Linked DNA regions of Homo sapiens: regions 1 and 2 are each reported to be linked to region 3. The links are microRNA targets in miRTarBase. Many come from high-throughput screens and were not tested one by one. Region 3 holds a microRNA gene; each other region holds the end of a gene's coding sequence.
What was found. Region 3 holds the annotated microRNA hsa-miR-4673 (UCCAGGCAGGAGCCGGACUGGA, at 1,080-1,101, shown strand). A microRNA usually pairs through its seed, bases 2 to 8, with sites in the 3' UTR of a target mRNA and lowers its output. Matches are read on the target gene's strand: a 7mer-m8 pairs with bases 2 to 8, a 7mer-A1 pairs with bases 2 to 7 and ends in A, and an 8mer does both.

Region 1 (3,229 bases), not on the chromosome of region 3:
GAATAAAAGAATGTTTAAGCAATATTAACAACAATAAATGAATAAAATCGTGTGTTTCTCCTAGGCTTCCTGCAGAGGTGGATCCTGTGACAGTATTTGCCTCACTTTCCCCAGAGGGTCTGCTGATCATCGAAGCTCCCCAGGTCCCTCCTTACTCAACATTTGGAGAGAGCAGTTTCAACAACGAGCTTCCCCAGGACAGCCAGGAAGTCACCTGTACCTGAGATGCCAGTACTGGCCCATCCTTGTTTTGTCCCCAACCCTAGGGCTTCTCTGATTCCAGGATACATTACTTTAGCTGAACTCAGATTTAGTGCAAGTAAAATGTTAGAGGGTGCGGGGGTGAGGACTGACCACAGATTCCCTGGATAGTGTAGTGGTAGATTTCTCCACAGGATAGCGCAATTGGCAAATCATGCTTGGTTGTGTTAGGCCAAAATACTAGTTTTGCTTTCTTTACCTTTTCTATCTTGATGAAAATGTTGCACATTCTATAGTTGCAAAACACATAAAAGGGGACTTAACATTTCACGTTGTATCTTACTTGCAGTGAATGCAAGGGTTACTTTTCTCTGGGGACCTCCCCCATCACCCAGGTTCCTACTCTGGGCTCCCGATTCCCATGGCTCCCAAACCATGCCGCATGGTTTGGTTAATGAAACCCAGTAGCTAACCCCACTGTGCTTCCACATGCCTGGCCTAAAATGGGTGATATACAGGTCTTATATCCCCATATGGAATTTATCCATCAACCACATAAAAACAAACAGTGCCTTCTGCCCTCTGCCCAGATGTGTCCAGCACGTTCTCAAAGTTTCCACATTAGCACTCCCTAAGGACGCTGGGAGCCTGTCAGTTTATGATCTGACCTAGGTCCCCCCTTTCTTCTGTCCCCTGTGTTTAAGTCGGGATTTTTACAGAGGGAGCTGTCTCCAGACAGCTCCATCAGGAACCAAGCAAAGGCCAGATAGCCTGACAGATAGGCTAGTGGTATTGTGTATATGGGCGGGACGTGTGTGTCATTATTATTTGAGTTATGCTGTTGTTTAGGGGTAAATAACAGTAAATAATTAATAATAATAATAATAATAATAAAGGAGCTGACGTTCTTAGCCTTGTGTGGTTCTTTTAATGAGGAACTAAATGTAATACCACCTAGATATACAACATCAGTTAGCAATGCTGTGGCTTAAAGTAATGTTGCGCGGAGCCGCGATGCCTAAAGGAGGGAGAAAGGGAGGCCACAAAGGCTGGGCGAGGCAGTATAGGAGCCCTGAGGAGATCGACGTACAGCTGCAGGCTGAGAAGCAGAAGGCCAGGGAAGAAGAGGAGCAAAAAGAAGGTGGAGATGGGGCTGCAGGTGACCCCAAAAAGGAGAAGAAATCTCTAGACTCAGATGAGAGTGAGGATGAAGAAGATGACTACCAGCAAAACCGCAAAGGCGTTGAAGGGCTCTTCAACATCGAGAACCCCAACCAGGTGGCACAGACAACCAAAAAGGTCACACAACTGTATCTGGATGGGCCAAAGGAGCTTTCGAGGAGAGAACGAGAAGAGATTGAGAAGCAGAAGGCAAAAGAGCGTTACATGAAAATGCACTTGGCCGGGAAGACAGAGCAAGCCAAGGCTGACCTGGCCCGCTGGCCATCATCCGGAAACAGCGGGAGGAGGCTGCCCGGAAGAAGGAAGAGGAAAGGAAAGCAAAAGATGATGCCACATTGTCAGGAAAACGAATGCAGTCGCTCTCCCTGTATAAGTAACCGCGACCCATGGGAGGAGATGCCGGGGACCTGGGCCGCGCTGCCAGGACCTCTGCTGTGTCTCGCCCACCCTGTGCCCTGGCGCCGCCGCAACAGCCCCTCGTGGCCAGGAGCCCCCCATGGCCTGGGGCCTCCTCTTCATTTTGGCACAGAAATTGTTTGGGGGATGTGGGGGGAGCTGGGGGAGGGGCAGTTGCTATCTTTGAGACAGAAAGATGAGGGACAGCATTTCACATGTAACCATTTGAATGTTTTTGCTGTTTTTAGAATTCAGAGCCCTTGCTGGGGGGTGCCTGGGAGATGGGGTAAGAAGAGCTTTCATTTTTCTGGTAGATAGCATGTAAGGGGGTGGTTGTCCCAGGAGGCAGCTGCTGACAGGTTTGCTACACCCAGCCCCGGACTGTGTTGCCTAGGTGCTCATTCAGAGAGGGGCTGTCATCTGGGAGCCTGTGCCCCTGGGTCCTCGAGGGTTATGGCTTGTCCCTGGTCAGTCCTGTCTGATCGAGGCCTCGCCTCTCTGCCCCTCCCTGCCCAGTTCCTACCCACCTGGCTAAGGCCAGTGCCCATTTTTAACCCTACCCATTGATCATTTCAAGAAACCTCTGTTTACTGTGTGGCACCCAGGCAAAACATGTTCCACAAGTTCAACTTGTATATTTGGCAGATTAAACTTGACATTATCGTAAAAAAATAAAAATAAAAAATATAAAAAATAAAGTAATGTTGCCTGATGAACAGTGGCTTAAATGATATAAATAGCTGTTTTCTAACTTCACAAAAAGTTTAGAGGTAAGTAGATACACAGTTTTTTTTTCAGCTGTTATGCCACCAAGAGCCCAGGATATTTCCATTTTTTTCTCTGCCATCTCTGACAAGTGTACATAGTCACAGTCTATCCTCATGGTTACAAGATGGCTGCAGCAGCTCCAGGCATCTCATCCTCATATGACAATGTATGGGGAATAGAAGGAAGTCATAAAAAGGTATTATCACCTAGCTTCTTTTATCAGTGAGCAGGATATCGTCCAGAAGCTCCCAGCAGACTTCTTTTTCTATCTCATTGGCCAAAAGTGGGTCACATGCCTACCCTGAGACCAATTTCTGCCAAAAGGGAAAAGGATGGTCATGACAGGCTTGGATCAACATCTTCTGAGGCCTGCAACATTGCTACCTGAACAAAACAAGGTTCTGCTAGGAAGGAGGAAAGAGGCCTAGCAGCTCTGAGGGCAGTTAACAGTGCTGTGGCTGCCACGGGTTTGGATGCTGCCAGGAACACAGATCCCTGACTGTAGGGTGGGAGGGAGAAGGGCTGCTGTGGTAAGTGCCAGGAGACCCAACTCAAACTAATTTAAACCAAAAGGGGTTTTTATTGGTGCACATAGCTGAGAAGTCTGGGATAAGAGCTGCTTGCTAGGAGAGCTGGATTCGGGGCACTAATGCTATCAACAGAATTGTTTCCCTCCATCTGA
Region 2 (3,250 bases), not on the chromosome of region 3:
CTAGACTTCCTCGTCCAGCTCTTCCCTCCTCAACCCTCCACCCCAGACAGGACATTGCATTTGACAGTAGCCCTGGCAAAGAGGCATGCTGTCTCTGGTGCATTCTCTCTGCAAACCCTGAGCTCTCTAATCAGATTCCATCCTGGGAGAACGGTACTTTGTTCCTAGAACAGTCAATGGCCTTGGACATTGACAAATGCTTTCCATGCATCGTCTTCTTTAATCCTTAAAATACCCCTTGAAGCTAGTACTATTAATATTCCCCATTTCATAGTCAATGAAACTGAGGCTCTGGGAGGTTAAGTCACAAGTTCATGCAGCTAGTAAGTAGCAGAGATGGGATTTGACACCAGGTCAGACCGGCTCCTGTTTGCATGCCCTTGCTTGCTCTGTCAGAGCAGCTCTGGGGGACAGCGACTGTCCCTGCTGACCTGGGGTACCCGTCAGCCCAGCCTCCTCCCTGCAGCCCCACCTCTTCTCCATTCTCCAGGACGAGGGAAGAACAGGCGGCAGAGCATCTTCTGAGCCACGCCCACCTTGCTGTGGCCAAGGGACAAGAGATCACATGGAGCACAAATTCGGGTAGGATGGAGCCTGTGTGGCCCTCGGAGGACTGAAGAACGAGGGCTGACAGCCAGCCTGGAAGACCGCTTGGCAGCCCTTCTGGCCACGGCTGTTTCTTCTTTGTGCTTCCCGTGTGCCTCCCCAGTAGCCCTCACCTGCATACCAACCCCTCCTTTACCCACGTTGGGGCTGGCATAAGCTGCTTCCCTGAGAGGACATGAGGGGGGGGCGGTCCTCGTACCCTCTCCCACCCTGGTGTTTGGGCACCTGCGTGGGATGCACACGGATGACAGAATCAAGGCGCCAGGATGGGCACTCTGCCCTGGATACAGGCTCTACCCTCCTCCCCCAGGACCTGCCTAGTGCCAGTTTGGTAGTCCCCCTTTCTGGCCCCTTGGAGCCCACACACGTTTCATCTTTTTCCCCTCTGAGAGCAAGAAGAGACATGGCATGTTCTCTGGGACCCTGGAATCCTAGGTACCCACATGTGTGCCAAAGCCTACCCCACCTGGCAGGTGTCCCACAGCAACAGAAGGAATAGTAGTCCCCACTCTTTCCATCAGCCCTACCCTACCCTCATTCCCCGACACCCTCTGGCTTGAACCATGGCTGAGCAGTGCCGGCATACGCTTTGCTGGCATGCTTGGATGCCCAGCTGTGTCCAGAGGTGGCCTGGGACCGCCAGTTGCACGCCTGCCACCTCAGCCAGCCCCCGCCCAGCTCATCAGTCTGAATGGAGTTGCCTTAAATTGGCAGGTGGTACCGTACTCACTGCCCTTGGAGCTGTGACCGGCTCCTGCCTGTCCACCCCTTCCCGAGGTGGCTCCTGCTTACCTTATCATCCCAGGGCTCTGATTAGCCAGGCCTGGTCAGGGTCCTGGGGACGGCACCCAGATATGCAGAGTCACCCTGACACTGGTGCCAGGCTGACCTCAGCTCCCGAAGGCTCGCACAGCCTCCCCATCCTTCCTTCCCAGCCCTTGTGGCTCTGTCCACCTGATCCCAATACCAGCTTCCCCCAGCCCCTGCCACCCCAGAGGGCGGCCACGACAGGGAGAGGTGTAGATGCCACCATCTGAGGGAGAGGAACGTGGAACAGGAGCAGGCTCTGATGCTGAGAGGCTTGCCTCCGGGGGCTGGAAGCCTGGGTGGCCGGGGCCCCTGAAGAAGGCTCCCCTCTGTATCCCCCAGGTCTCCTCAACACTGGGCTGATCCTGAATGGCACAGGCCAAGGGGAGGCCAGCCTCGCCTTTCTACCCAGGCCCCCTGCCCTGCCCACCTCAGGCCCCCACCCTCCACTCCTCCCCACGGTACTGTGAACGTCGTGTGACTCAGTGCAGAGACAGATAATATATTTAATTCATGTACAGAAAGGAGCGAGCAGTCTCGTACAGAAAAGCTGACTTTGATAGATTGATGCCAAAGATGGAGAACTGAAGTCCCCCCTCCAGGCCTAATGAGTGTGGGTGGGGTGTGCTTGTGTGTATGTGTGTGTGTGTGTGTGTGTGTGTGTGTGTGTGTATATATATATATATATATATATATATATAGTGAGGAGAGAGTTTGATTTGTGTGTATCTCTGACCTCCCCTACACCCCAGGCTGTGGGACGAGTGCCTAGCATTCACCTTGCTGTATCCTGGGTGCTGCTGCGTTCAGAGCCAGAAGTTGGCTCTTGCTGAGGAGCATCAGTGGTTGTTGTGGGTGGGCAGAGGAGTCCCAGGCCTGGGAGTCTGACCTGTGGCCTGGCATTGGCCCAAGTTGGTGCCTGTGGGGTGGGGCTGGCCAGGAGAGCAAAGAGGGACCCCTGGGCGGGGGTCTGGGGTCTGGCCGTGCAGCTAATCCCTGTGTTCCTGATGCCAAATGGCCCCCTGGCTTCTGGGGAGGGAGGTAGGCAAGATCAAGATGAGGTTGACATGGGAGATGGCCAAGGCCAGGGCAGCAGGACGAGGGTGTGGGCCTCACTGTAATTCAGGCTCTGCAAGAATTGCTGCAGACCTCGAATACACCTCCTGCTGCTGCCTAGACCGCCTCCCCACCTTTGATCTGGACACAACCCACCCCCGCAACACATCATACACAGCTCCCAAAGTGCTCAGAGTCCTGCTGTTGTCCAGTTCGGTGTCCAGGTTTGTTCTTCCCGAGACCACTCTGAGAATGCCAGGCCCGAAACCCTGCCTCCTGACCTGTCCTCATGCCTGGCCTTAAGCACTTTGCAGTTTGCCGGCATGGTTTGCAGTTACTTAAGAGGGTGGCTGCTTTCCAGAGGAGGAAGCTGATGCTGAGGTTGATGATGTCTCCCAAGGCTCTGGAAGTAAGGGGCGGGCCAGGGCTCCATTCTCAGCTCAGCACCAGTTCTACCGAAGGAGACCTCCTCACTTTGCTTGTAGGCAGCCAGACACCAAAGTAGGGTCGTAACTCAGACAATTAGTGCTTGAGGGGAGGAGAAGGGCTGGGAAATGCATTGGTGGGAATTGGAAACCAGACATTTATTAAGTTCCCTGCTGGGTGCCAGGCAGCCCTGTGCCCAGGCATTGTCTCACTGAATCCTCATAGAAACCCCCCTTTCTCCCCACTTTGCAGATGAGGACAGGAGCCTCCCAGGGGTAGCCTGGGGTCACATACCAAATTAGAATCCCAGGTGTCTGCCCCCCAGCCCTGTGGTCTTTAAGGAGTGGGAGGCGTG
Region 3 (3,200 bases):
GTACAGTGACGTGCCCTCAGCTCACTGCAGCCTTGACCTCCCAGGCTAAAGCGATCCTTCTGCCTCAGCCCCTCAAGTAGCTTGGGACCACAGGCCGGCGCCACCACGCTTTGCTACTTCTTGTATTTTTTTTTGTAGAGACGGGGTTTCGCCATGTTGTCCAGGCTGGTCTTGAACTCCTGGGCGCAAGCGATCCACCCACTTCAGCCTCCCAAAGTGCCGGGATTCCAGGCGTGAGCCACCGCGCCAGGGCTGGGGTCTGGTTTTGGGTGCTCCCCAAGCTGATTTGCATTTTGGATTTTGGTTGTCTCTGGCTGCCTGCTTTTGCTCCGGTCCAGCAGACAGACAGAACGGACGGGGTGGTGGCGGTGGGGCAATGTCTCAGAGGGAGGGGCCGAGCAGGTGGGAGCTCCAAGGGCAACGGGGGTTCAAAGGCATCTCGGGAGGGCGGCAATTAGTAACCGGCTGCAGGTTTGGCTGTTGCCGAACGCGCCTTTCTGGGTTGATCATTGAACCAGCGGGAGTTGAGTGGATTAATAGCTAACTGGCTGCCTTGGAGGCCTGGGTGGGGCCATACCTCGGGGGAGGGGGCCCTGGCAGCCTGTGGAGGAGGAGGGGGAGGAGGAGGTGGGCACCAGAGCTCTGCCCCAGGGAGGATGGGCCATCTGAATCTCTGCAGCTTCCCTGGGGCTGCGAGGGGCCCACCCTGCCCCAGCCAGCAGCCTGCTGGCCCCATGTCCCCCTGCTGCTCAGAGCCCAGGCCCCAGTGTCAGCCCCTGAAGATGGGGTGTGCGGCCCCCCTGTGGAGACATTGTAGGGAGCTCTGAGCATGCAGGCGGCACCCAGGTGCAGGAGCTGCCGGAACCTCTTAAAAGAGACCCAAGGGTTTTTGTGACAGAATCTTCTGGAACCCTGTGTTCCTGAGTCCCTGTTTAGCCAGTCCTGTCCAAAATGATTCTTTCAAGCAGGGCGTGTCCCTCTGGGCACTGGAGTGAGGCAGGGGACGGGCACAGACCCCGGGGGCCCCAGGGCAGGGCCGTGGAGGCCAGGCTCTTGTGTCCAGAGCAGTGTGTCGGGGGTCCAGGCAGGAGCCGGACTGGACCTCAGGGAAGAGGCTGACCCGGCCCCTCTTGCGGCAGGCTTCACCGGCCAGAACTGTGAGGAAAATATCGACGATTGTCCAGGAAACAACTGCAAGAACGGGGGTGCCTGTGTGGACGGCGTGAACACCTACAACTGCCGCTGCCCGCCAGAGTGGACAGGCGCGTATACGGGTCGCCGCAGGGCGGGGTAGCCGGGGCGGGGCTGCTACCCACTTACTAAACTGCACTCACAGGCATAGCGGGGAGCAGCCGAGACCCTGTCCCAGGCCAGGCAGACTAGGGTTGGCCGAGAAGGACAACATGATGGGGGCCCCACTTCCCGTGGCCAGGGTCTGGTGCCCCTCACCTCGGGGGTCAGCACAGACAGGGCCCTGGTTGGTCTGTGTGGGCCGTTTGCAACCTGGCTCCAGGCAGCCCCTGTGCCCAGTGGGGTGTCCTGGCATTGAGGGCCTTCAGCACCCCACTCAGGCCACGCTTCCTGGGCCAGTCACAGGGATGCCTGGATGAACAGACAGGCCCTGTGTTCGGGAATTACCCTCTGGTGGGGTGACGGGCAAAGGTGCACCCCGACGCAGCAGTGTCCACAGAGCACAAAGAGGAGGCAAGACTCCATGGTGCTGGGCCTGCAGAGGAAGGAGTGATTTAGGCTGGCGGTGGGTGGAGGAGTCAGCCCAGGAAGGCTTCCTGGAGGGGGCGGCATTGCCACCCTGCGTCTTAGGGGACAGGGAGCTCAGGGAGTGGCAGCTGCCCGGGGCCGACAGCTCCTGTTCCCTGCAGGTCAGTACTGTACCGAGGATGTGGACGAGTGCCAGCTGATGCCAAATGCCTGCCAGAACGGCGGGACCTGCCACAACACCCACGGTGGCTACAACTGCGTGTGTGTCAACGGCTGGACTGGTGAGGACTGCAGCGAGAACATTGATGACTGTGCCAGCGCCGCCTGCTTCCACGGCGCCACCTGCCATGACCGTGTGGCCTCCTTCTACTGCGAGTGTCCCCATGGCCGCACAGGTGAGTGCCTTGAGGCCCAGGTGGGCGCAGGGGGCTCACATGGGCCAGGCCTGAGCTGTGTGACCTCACCCAGGGACTGTGGCCCTCCTGCACCCAGGATAACCTGAAAGGGCCTTTCTGGTCAGGGAGGCCGGTGGTCGCTGTGAGTCCCCCGGAACGTCCCAAGTGTCACGGGATGCCCGACGGGGTCACGGCGGGCAGCTCCTCCTGGGGTGTCAGTGGGGTTGGACCCCAGCCGTGGGTGGTGTGCCATGCCTGGCCCAGGGGCCGTGCCCACTGACCGCCGCTGCCTGCCCAGGTCTGCTGTGCCACCTCAACGACGCATGCATCAGCAACCCCTGTAACGAGGGCTCCAACTGCGACACCAACCCTGTCAATGGCAAGGCCATCTGCACCTGCCCCTCGGGGTACACGGGCCCGGCCTGCAGCCAGGACGTGGATGAGTGCTCGCTGGGTAGGTGCCAGCACAGGGGGTGCGGCCAGGTGGGGGTGGCAGCCTGGCCCCAGAACCGATGAGAAGTCGATTCTGGCTTCAGGGGGTGCCCAGTTAGATGGGGGATGGGACCCTGCCAGTCCGATGGGGGTGGTGTGCAGTGAGGTGTTGCAGGGGCCAGGGTGCCTGGAGCAGCCTCTCACCCGTGTGCCCTCGCCAGGTGCCAACCCCTGCGAGCATGCGGGCAAGTGCATCAACACGCTGGGCTCCTTCGAGTGCCAGTGTCTGCAGGGCTACACGGGCCCCCGATGCGAGATCGACGTCAACGAGTGCGTCTCGAACCCGTGCCAGAACGACGCCACCTGCCTGGACCAGATTGGGGAGTTCCAGTGCATCTGCATGCCCGGTGCGTCGGCCGGGGCCAGGGCGGGAAACCGAGTCGAGGCTGGGCAGCCTTGGAGGGGCAGCCCCGGGAACATCTGTGGGTTGCTTCCGCTTTCCCCAGCCTCCATGCCTTCTGGGCCCACAGCCTGCACAGGGCATGGGGAAACTGAGGCCAGGCCACAGGGCCAGCAGAGCACGGGGGCAGTGCTAGGCAGATGAGGGTGCCGGGCCAGGGGCCACGGGCTGCAGGGGAGCGGGTGCGCAGGGGG

Region 1: miRTarBase lists HSPB8 as a target of hsa-miR-4673. Seed matches in the 3' UTR shown: 7mer-m8 at 692-698.
Region 2: miRTarBase lists CDK18 as a target of hsa-miR-4673. Seed matches in the 3' UTR shown: 7mer-A1 at 638-644.

The regions. Positions count from the first base shown.
Region 1 is chr12:119,193,635-119,196,863 of GRCh38, forward strand. HSPB8 (heat shock protein family B (small) member 8) reads left to right here. Exons shown (of 3, transcript NM_014365.3): 3 at 65-1,112. The coding sequence ends at 224. It also overlaps the pseudogene PDAP1P1. Among named protein-coding and RNA genes, the nearest start is that of HSPB8-AS1, 11 kb to the left of the region's middle.
Region 2 is chr1:205,530,854-205,534,103 of GRCh38, forward strand. CDK18 (cyclin dependent kinase 18) reads left to right here. Exons shown (of 16, transcript NM_212502.3): 16 at 491-1,937. The coding sequence ends at 525. Among named protein-coding and RNA genes, the nearest start is that of CDK18, 28 kb to the left of the region's middle.
Region 3 is chr9:136,517,505-136,520,704 of GRCh38, reverse strand. MIR4673 (microRNA 4673) reads left to right here and starts at 1,079; the gene lies at 1,079-1,137. It overlaps NOTCH1 (notch receptor 1), which reads left to right. Exons shown (of 34, transcript NM_017617.5): 5 at 1,140-1,262; 6 at 1,881-2,114; 7 at 2,413-2,568; 8 at 2,768-2,953. The region is part of intron 1 of LOC124902310 (a long non-coding RNA gene); the gene reads right to left.